Linked DNA regions of Homo sapiens. The protein of the gene in region 1 interacts with the protein of each later gene in a pairwise test. Each region holds a gene or a part of one and is shown in the gene's direction. Other genes may lie near its edges.

Region 1 (5,154 bases):
TGCTACATGGCGGCTCACTCAATTTGAGCCCATCCCCAGGATGTGAGAGTGATCCAGAAGCCGTCCGACAGCACGCCGTGCAGCACGCTGGCCTGAAGCCATGCCTCCTTGTGGTGTGATCCTGTCAGCACTCCGGAGCTAAGCAGATGTCAGGCCCGATCCGGGCCGGGCTGGGGGACTAGCTGAGCAGCGGGGGGAGGGGGCGTGATTCAGCAGTGGCACATTGTCTTCAGGGGACAAACGGTATCTCTTCCTGAGCTTCACAACAGGCGCCTTGTTCTGCCCAAGGTGCTGTGTTGGAAATGGCCAACCTATAGGGCCCGGGAAGTGGGGAGTTGCAGGATCTATGGGGACAGCTCAGCACGGGCGGTAATCAGTCAGCCCTGATGCCACCCCTGACACTGTGCCAGCCTCGCACCCCCTGTTGATCCTTTCCAGGGCACAGAACTCTCTCCCATCAAAACTGGACTCATGCTGCTTGCTTATAGAAGGAGTATAAATAAGTGATAAGGAAATGTTCTGATAATGATAAGCGGGTATGGTTCCTCAGCAGACTAGATGTATCAAAGAAGACAATTGTGTGTGTTTGTTCATTTATTTTTCAGTGTTCCAGTTCCTGTAGTCAGTTTAGAGAAAATTCCTAACCTAGTGAAGGCAGATGGTGCCAATGTCAAAATGAACTCCACAACCACTACTGCAGTTTCTGCCTCCTCCACCTCGTCCTCTGCCGTCTCCACCCCTCCTTTAATTAAGCCTGTCCTGATGTCCAAGTCAGTGCCACCTTCACCAGAGAAGATCTTAAATGGCAAAGGAATTCTGCCAACCACCATAGACAAGAAACACCAAAATGGCACCAAAAACAGCAACAAGCCTTACAGGAGACTTTCAGGTATGTGTCAGTGTCGTCAGGGTCTGACTCATGATTAGACTGAAAGGGAGTCGCAGCCATAACGAAGGAGTGATGTGCTGTTATCATTAAGCAGGTCTGTTTCATTTTAAGGGGGATGCAGAGTTTACCTGCAAACAGGAACCCCACCTAAAAATGCAAGGGAAAACCAGGTCTCTTCTTCCCCGGGCAGATGAAGTCCCTCACTCAGTTCAGTGCTTAGCGGGAGTTACCCTAGCAACCCAGGAGGCAGGGTGCTCTGCACCGACCTACTCTGTAGATTCCGAGGGTCTTGTGAGCAGGTGATTCTGTGTATCTGTATCATACAAACAGGTTGAACTAGCCCTGGCTTCCATAGAAGCTTCACTGCTGGGAAGCTGGACAACACACAGGGATCTCATGGTGCCTCAAGGCATGTGAGGGACAGCCCCGCCAACAGCTGTGCTGCACAGGGACACACAGCCTCTGTCCTTTGGCCTCGGGAGTTTCCAGGTTAATTCTGCAGTTGAGTTTACAACTGTCGATCCCCCATAATCAGGTTGGAATTCCCAAACAGGAACAGTAGGGCTGGCAGTGCCGATAGGGTGCTGGGGCGGTCTCTTGTGGGTCTACTCCTTGGTTGTCTGAGCAGACACTTGGGGTGCCAGAAGAGGCACACAGGATGATGGTTATTTGTTAGAGGCCCCTATGTGGGTAATGTTTGCTTTGGATCGATCTGCTGTAGAACTAAACGTGGCAGTTTTTACTTTCTCCAAAAGACCAGGAGAAGCTATAAACTTCATAACTTCTTCTTACATCATGGGCACTCCCTGATGGTGGCCAGAGAAAGTAAAATACAGTGACAGCCACCCTGTGACAGAGAAACTGTCCTCGGGTTAAGCTTGATTTTTAAGCACCCAAGGAATTGTGGGTAATTTTTATTGTCTACTCTGTATTTGTCTGTAGTTCTAGTTTCTCTATCTTTCATCTGTAACTCTTTTTAAAATTATGTCTGAAAAATCCCTCAAGCCCAAAGCATTCGGATAAAGCAGGCATTGTACCTTGCACATCTCTGCCTGCGCTGCTCACCCACTGTCAAGAAAGAAAGGTAGAGCCTGGTGCTCTCCCTAAGCACTGTGGGCCTCACAGTTCGGGCGGGAGCCCCCAGCACCTGGCTCTTCCTGCATGGAAAGCTTGGTTTCACTCTTCAGAGGTGGTGGCAACATCCCCAGAAAACCGGTAGGCGTGGGCACAGTGGCTGGAGGCCGAGGGCTCCTCGCCATAGCAGAAGCACGGCCGTGGCTTCCAGCCTGTAACCCCATCTGAAGTTGTCTGGGGATTTTTTTGCCGCACATTGTTTTTGCATTTTGTGGGTTGTCTTGTTTCGTCGGGTCTTTTGCTTGTTTCTGCCTCACTTTCACATTTGGCAGCCAGCTCCTACCCTCAGCCAACAGCCTGCTCAGCTCCAGGTCGACATGAGGCGCTGGTGTGGGACCAGGCACAGGCCTGACTCTGACAGACCCAAAAAAAAAACACCACACCAGGCAGCCTGGCCAGAGAGGGCTCCGAGCAAACCAGCATCTCCAGGCCTAGCAGGTTTTTTTTCTAAGTGAAGCTAAAAAAAAAAAAAAAAAAAAAAAAAAAAAAGAGAGAGAGAGAGAGAGAGAAAAGGCAGACAAAAAGCAAAAAAAGGGGGGAGGCATTTTGGTAACCAGCCAGGGAATCTGTCTTGGGTATAGAGTAGTTTTCTTGTGCATATCATCAGTAACACCATTGCAACCTCCCCATGACCCTCAAAGCTTTTGAAAATAGAATACATTCATTTATTATGGTATAATCTGAGCATTGTTATATGCTCGGAGTTTACTCCACCAATTTCAGACAGTTTTCCAGCTAGGAACCTTTTTTGAGTTTGCAGCCATTCAAGGGTCTTAAGGAGATACCACCAATTTCTGTACACCCTCTACCACCAGCAACACTGCTGCCAGTCTACCCACATGCCCAGAGGGCTGTGTCATTCCTGCTCTGCAGGACTTATGTGTTTGCTCGGTGCCTTCCAGAAACGGCACAGGCCATCCAAGAGGTGGAATTTTAAAGCCCAAAAGATCCTTAAGAGATCACCTACCCTGGGCAATATAGTGAGACCCTGTATCTACAAAAAATAACAAAATCAGGCAGGTGTGGTGGTGCATGCCTCTAGTTCCAGCTACTCAGGAGGTTGAGGCTTGAGCCCAGGAGGTCGAGGCTGCAGTGAGCCTTGTGATCCCACCACTGCACTTCAGCCTGGGTAACGGAGCGAGACCCTGTCTCAAAAAATAAAAATGAAAAAAAGAGATCACCTCACATCCCCTCATTTTTAAGGTGAGGACAGCATGATTGTCTTCCTGGCAGGGGTGAAGGACCCAAGATGGGTATAGAAAGAGCAGGCTCCTTAGAAGTAACCTCCGCACAAGCTGTCCACAGTCAACTGGAAGGCAGGAGCTGGGGAAGCCTGGCCTCTCCGCACAGACATCCTTCATCCTGGTGGGGCAGCCTGCCCCGTTTTATTCCCACGTGAAGCATCAGACCCAGGGCAGTGGGGGCGGGGAGCAGCTGTGAGATTAGCAGGCCCCTGCCCTCTCTGCACCTTCAAGTTCAGCCTTCTCCCCTGCCCCTGCCTGTAACACTGCTAGAGTGCCCCTCAATCAGGTAAATGGTGTTTGTGGTCAGCAAGGCTGTGTGCAAAGCCTGCGCCGAGAGCTTTGTCAAGCATGAGAGAGGCAGGTCACTCTGACATGTCAAGGAGTAATCTCCCATTTACATGGCTAAAACTAGCAGGAAGGCAGGAGCTGGAGTCAGGGTGTCTGTACTCTTGGAGCAGCCCAGGAAAGGGGTCGTTGGGTCTCAGGTGGCTCTCCCTGGTCTGCAGCCAGCTATGCCCAAATGCCAAGGACCTGTGGAACCATTGCAAGTAAAATAAAGCGTTAAGAGCATTAAGAGCAGCACGGCTCCTCTCCTTCCCTTCGGTGCCTGCTCCCGCCCTATTCCCCGAGCCTTGTGCTGCGTTCGGCGGTGCTGCCGAAGCTAGACTTGGGAACTCTGGGTTCAGAGGGGAGCACCATTTTCCCCGAGCGGTTCTGGAAGACTTTTAGCAGCTGGTTGAGAAAACAAAACACAAAAAAACAAAAAACAGATTGCCTGACAATGTCTCACTTGTTGGTGCAAATGTGCATTTTTTAAAAAATGTAGTCTTAATGCCAAATCCTATTTAGTCTCCTTTTTTCTTATATTTTTTGTTTGTTTCTTAAACCAGAGAGAGAATTTGACCCAAATAAACACTGTGGAGTATTGGATCCCGAGACAAAGAAACCTTGCACAAGATCCCTCACCTGCAAGGTATTTCTCTTTCCATAAAAAATACTTCCTGCTCTCGCTGGGGCCTTTGTCGAAATGTTTGCATGCCACTCTCTGCACACGGCAGGGTGTGGAACCTCGACATGACCCCCAGCTGTTCTTTGTAAGGGAAATGCTTTCTTCTCGTCCATGGTAGCAGAGTGCCTGCCTCAAGCTGGCTGGCTTTTTAAGAAGGAGAAAAAAAAAAAAAAAAAAACTAGGCTTCCCCTGTTACTTGTGAGGCCAGACAGTAAATTGTATTTATAGGCACTCACAGGCGGTTCTAAAGCCTGCTACGTTTTAATGTATGCAGGAGCAGCGGCAGCGGCGGCGGCGGCGGCGGCAGCGCCCTGAAAGGCAGCCCTGGAGGGGAGGATGATATGCCGCGCCCCTGATCCAGCCACACCGGGGTGGCCAGGGGAACAGCTGACCCAAGGCGGCCGCCATTGGGTCGCCCAAAGCCCTGTATTTCATGCTGAACTGCTAGTGCTTCTTGGGATCAAGGCGATGGCCCTCTCTGCTTGGTGGCTCTGTTTGTCTGGGCCGAATCGAGCCTCCCACCTGCACCTGGATTAACTCTAGCATTCCCTCGCAGTTGCCTTTCATCAGAGAGGTTTTCATGGGTTCTGCGCTGAAGCTCGTCATCCTATGCCATTTTTTGGAGGAAGCTTTGGCTTCTTAACACCAGGAGTGTAGGGCATGGTTGCGTTCGTGTGGTCTCTGCCTCTTCCTAGCCACAGAACAGGAGCTGTTGCCTTGAAGTTGACTTTTCAAGCACCTCTAAATTTCCATGAATTGCTATTTCTGAAATGGAGGGCCTGGGGAAGCAGGTTTATGTGCTGATCAAAGAGGCTGTGCTTTTCATTTCTCTTCTCCTTAGACACATTCGCTAAGCCATCGGAGGGCAGTCCCAGGCC
Region 2 (5,154 bases), about 84 Mb from region 1:
TTTGAGACAGAGTCTCGCTCTGTCGCCCAGGCTGCACAGTCTCAGCTCACTGCAAGCTCTGCCTCCCAGGTTCATGCCATTCTCCTTCCTAAGCCTCCTGAGTAGCGAGTAGCTGGGACTACAGGCGCCCGCCACCACGCCCGGCTAATTTTTTGTATTTTTAGTAGAGGCTGGGTTTCACCATGTTAGCCAGGATGGTCTCGATCTCCTGACCTTGTGATCTGACATCTCAGCCTCCCAAAGTGACATATTTTATTCTTGTATTGCCACTGAACTCAGCAGAGATGAATTGGTAACAGTAGCTACCATGTAATGAGCAATTCCGTGCCAGCACTCTGGTAGAGGATTTGTAAATTTACTTAATACTTACATCAACTTTCTGAGGTAGAAACATTCTTTCATAAATTGGTATTTTCTTTTCAGTCCATTCACATACTTGTTATTCCCACACCTGATGGAGAGAATGTAGAACTGTGTGAAAGAAAAGATAATTATAAGGCATTGTAGGCCGGGCACGGTGGCTCACACCTGTAATTCCAGCACTTTGGGAGGCCAAAGCAGGTGAATCACCTGAGGTCAGGAGTTTGAGACCAGCCTGGCAAACATGGCAAAACCCTGTCTCTACTAAAAATACAAAAAAAATTAGCTGGGCATGGTGGCACACGCCTGTCATCCCAGCTACTAGGGAGGCTGAAGAAGAAGAATTGCTTGAACCCAGGAGGTGGAGGTTGCAGTGAGCCGAGATCGTGCTACTGCACTCCAGCCTGGGCGACAGAGCAAGACTCCATCTCAAAAAAAAAAAAAAAAAAAAAAAGCATTGTATTTCAGGATAATGTTAAGCCATGCCAATAGATTTTTTTATTGTTGTTTTATTGTGCATTATTTATTATATTTTTCCCAAAGTGAAGAAGCCAAGCTGGTATATATACTAATCTGAGTGATGAAGTCTAAGCTATATAACATGAATGAATAAAGTAATAATATCTTAAATGTCTTTTTATGATTACAGTGACAGTATGTAGTAATCTTGGGTGGTTTTGCATTTCAAAAACCACTTTATGTATACACTAAAAAAAGTCGAATCAATAAAGAGATGTTTATTTAAACTATTTAGGAATGCAAGATGTCCATAAAACTTAATCCTTTGTTTAGTGACTTTTCACTCCTGTATTTTCTTGTTATGATAAGATATGTTGCTTACCGTGGAAATGGTAATAAAGCTTTGTGTTTATATAACATCTTTTAGGATCTCAAAATGCTTTTAGACTATCTCATGTATCCTCATAGTATTTTAGTGAGTAGGTAAGTGGCAAGTATTATCTTCATTTTACAGATGGAGAGAGAAATTAAGCCACAAAGTGAGTTAAATGATGTATGTATATAGTTCCGTTATCTAGATACATAGGCAACCTGAGCCACTAAAGTAAGAATACTATATTTTAGAAGGATTGACATAGTATAAGCCATTAACCCCTTAGTTTTTGTACTTTACACAGATTGTTAGAAAAAATTTATTATGCACATAGATTTTTTTTTTTAATCCTTTCTTTAGGTGTAGAAAACATTACAATACTTCTTTTTTTTCTTCCTTTTTAGGTCAGCAGCAAGGACAAGATGGAGTAAAAGTCCAGCAAGCTACTATAGCTCCTGTAACTGTAGCAGTTGGAGGAATTGCTAATGCCACGATAGGTGCTGTTAGTCCTGACCAACTCACACAAGTGCATTTGCAGCAAGGCCAGCAGACTTCTGATCAAGAGGTACAACCTGGCAAGAGGCTTCGAAGAGTTGCCTGTTCCTGTCCTAATTGTAGGGAAGGAGAAGGAAGGTAAATGCTGTATTTTTCAACTGTGTCTATTTGGAAGGCATAAAACAGCAGTTAAAACCAAGTAATTGGCTGGGAATGATGGTCACTAGAACTTCATTACCTTTGTAGCCTAGAAGTTGATATATAATATTAGAAAGGGAATTAAGTTGGGCTATTTTAGGAATGAAATTTGAGCGGTCCTCCGCCTTGTTCCTTACACTTTTAAAAAATATTTTTTCTTTCTTCCCCACCCCTCCCCCACCCCAACAAGATGGAGTGTCACTCTGCTGCCTAGGCTGGAGTGCAGTGGTGCAATCTCAGCTCACTGCAATCTCTGCCTCCCGGGTTCAAGCGATTCTCCTGCCTCAGCCTTCCGAGTAGCTGGGATTAAGTACAGGTGCCCGCCACCACACCCGGCTAGTTTTTGTATTTTTAGTAGAGGCGGGGTTTCACCATGTGGGCCAGGCTGGTCTCGAACTCCTGACCTCAGGTGATCCACCCACCTCAGCCCCCCAAGTGCTGGGATTACAGGTGTGAGCCCCCTCGCCCAGCCCATTTTTTTTCTTTTTCATAAAATATTTACGTAACTTTATTGATATAAAACTCATTCGTACACCATACAGTTCACGAATTTAAAGTGTACAATTCAGTGGTTTTTAATATATTCAGAGCTGTGTAGACATGACTACAATCAATTTTAGAGTGTTTTCATCATCCCCAGAATAAATTCTGTATCTTTTTTAAGCATCACCCCCTTATCCCAATCCTTCCATCCTAGACAACTAATTTCTGTCTTTATAGATTTGCCTTTTCTGGACAATTCATATAAATGGAATCATGGTCTTTTGTGACTGGTTTCTTTTAGCATAATGTTTTCAAGGTTCAACCATATTACAGTATGATCAATACTTCATTCCTTTTTAGGGACAAATAATATTCCACTCTATGGATATACAATATTTTTGTTTATCCTGTCAATTGAAGGACATTTGGTTTTATCCACCCACTGGCCGTTATGAATAATACTGCAGTAAACATTTGTGTAGAACTGTTTGTGTGGGCATATGTTTTCATTTCTCTTGTATTTATATGAAATTACCTAGAAATGGATTTTTGGGTCATATTGTAATTCTATGTTTAACCATTTGAGGAACTTACCGACTGTTTTCCAAAGTGGCTGTACCATTTAACATTTCCATCAATAGGGTATGAAGGTTCCAGTCTCTCTAGATCATTGCCAGTACTTGTCATTATCTGACTTTATGATTAAAGCTATCCTAGTGAAGTCATATGTCACTGCAGTTTTGTTTTTACTGATACTAATGATATTGAGCATCTTTTCTTGTTCTTATTGGCCATGTTTGTATCTTTGGAGAAATGTTTATTTGGATCTTTTGCCCATTTTAAATTATATTATTTATTTTTCATTATGGAATTGTCTCTTTATATATTCTACATACAAATTCCTTATCAGATATACAATTTGAAAATATTGTCTCCTGGCTGGGCGCAGTGGCTCACGCCTGTAATCCCAGCACTTCGGGAGGCCAAGGCAGGTGGATCACCTGAGGTCAGGAGTTCAAGACCAGCCTGACCGGCATGGAGAAACCTTGTCTCACTGAAAATACAAAATTAGCCAAGCATGGTAGCGCATGCTTGTAATCCCAGCAACTCGGGAGGCTGAGGGAGGAGAATTGCTTGAACCCAGGAGGCGGAGGTTGCAGTGAGCCGAGATCGCGCCACTGCACTCCAGCCTGGGTGAAAGAGCGAAACTCCATCTCAAAAAAAAAAAAAGAAAGAAAAAAGAAAAATATTGTCTCCCATTGTGTGAATTGTCTGTATACTTTCTTGATAGTGCCTTTGCACCAAAGTTTTAATTTTGAAGTCTAGAGTTTTCTATTTTCCTTTATTGCTTCTGCTTTTGGTATTGTATCTAAGAATTCATTGCCAAATCCGAAGTCATTAAGATTCCTAGTTGTTTTTTTTTTTTAAGATAATTTTATAGTTTTTACTCTTACATTTAGGTCTGTGATTAATTTGGGGTTAATTTTTACGTATGGTGTTAGGTAAGGGTTCATCAAGCACCAGTTGTTGAAAAGACTGTCCTTTCTCCGTTGAATGTTCTTGGCACCCATGTCAAAAATTAGTTGACCATAGAACATGGATTTATTTCTGGACTTTCAGTTGTATTCCATTGATCTATATGACTATCTTTATGTCAGTACCACACTATCTTGAGTACTTTGGATTTGTAATAACTTTTGAAATCGAGAAATGTGAGTCCTGCAGCTTTGTTATTCTTCAAAATTGTACTGACTCTTTCGGGACACTTGCAATTCCATGTGAATTTTAGAATCAGTTTGTCAGTTTCTATAAAGAAACCAGATGGTATTCTGATGGAAATTGCATTGAATCTGTAGATCACTTTGGGGACGGTTGCCAGCTTAACAATATTACATCTTTTGGTCTATGCACATGGGAAGTATTTCTGGTTGTTTAATCTTTAACTTCTTTCATCAATGTTTTATAGTTTTCAGAGTATACATTTTGTACTTTTGTTAAATTCCAATTTTATTTCTGATGCTATTATAAGTTGAACTGTTTTCTTGATTGTTCAAGTATGTAGAAATACATTTTTTAATGTATTAATCTTTTATCCTGCAACTTTTGCTGAACTTTTTGATTAGTTATAACAGTTTTTTTGTTTGTTTGTTTGTTTGTTTGTTTAGTAGAGTCTTTAGGATTTCTGTGTATAAGGTCATGGAATCTGTGAACAGAGATAGTTTTTACTTTTTCCTTTCTACTCTGCAGGAGTTCTGTTTCTTTTTCTTGCTTAGTTTCTCTGTCTGGAACCTCTGGTACAATGTTGACAGTGTGCTTGTATTTTGTTGAGGATTTTTGCATCCATATTCATAAGAGAGATGTCTGTGGTTTTCTTTTTGTATTGTTTTTATCTGATTTTGGTAATGATAATACTGGCTTCATAGAATGAATTGGAAAGTATTCCCTCCAAACTGGTATTAATTCTTTAAATGTTTTGTGGAATTTACCAGTGAAGCTGTCTGTTCTTGGGCTTTTCTTATGGGTAGTTTTAATTACGAATTCAGTCTAGTTGCTTGTTGTAGGTGTATTCTGATTGATTATTTGTTCTTGAGTCAGTTTTAGTATTTTGGTCCGTATTTTTCTAGGAATTTGTCCATCTCCTCTGAGTTACCCAAGTAATTGCCGTAGAATTGTTCATGGTATTCCTTTGTAATCCTTTTTGTTTCTATAAGGTTGGTAGTGATATCTCCTCTTTGATTTCTGATTCTAATAATTTGAGTCCTACTTTCTTGGTCAGTCTAGCTAAA

Evidence for each region. Proteins that work in one complex are often made in the same cells at the same time.
Region 2: the proteins of ATXN7L1 (region 1) and SP4 interact in a two-hybrid assay, tested with the Homo sapiens proteins (one large-scale study listed by BioGRID).

The regions. Positions count from the first base shown.
Region 1 is NC_000007.14:105,638,573-105,643,726, reverse strand, and holds part of ATXN7L1 (ataxin-7-like protein 1), read left to right. Parts: intron 1-605; coding exon 606-889; intron 890-4,157; coding exon 4,158-4,240; intron 4,241-5,117; coding exon 5,118-5,154.
Region 2 is NC_000007.14:21,475,483-21,480,636, forward strand, and holds part of SP4 (transcription factor Sp4), read left to right. Parts: intron 1-1,596; coding exon 1,597-1,825; intron 1,826-5,154. UniProt on the Homo sapiens protein: Binds to GT and GC boxes promoters elements. Probable transcriptional activator.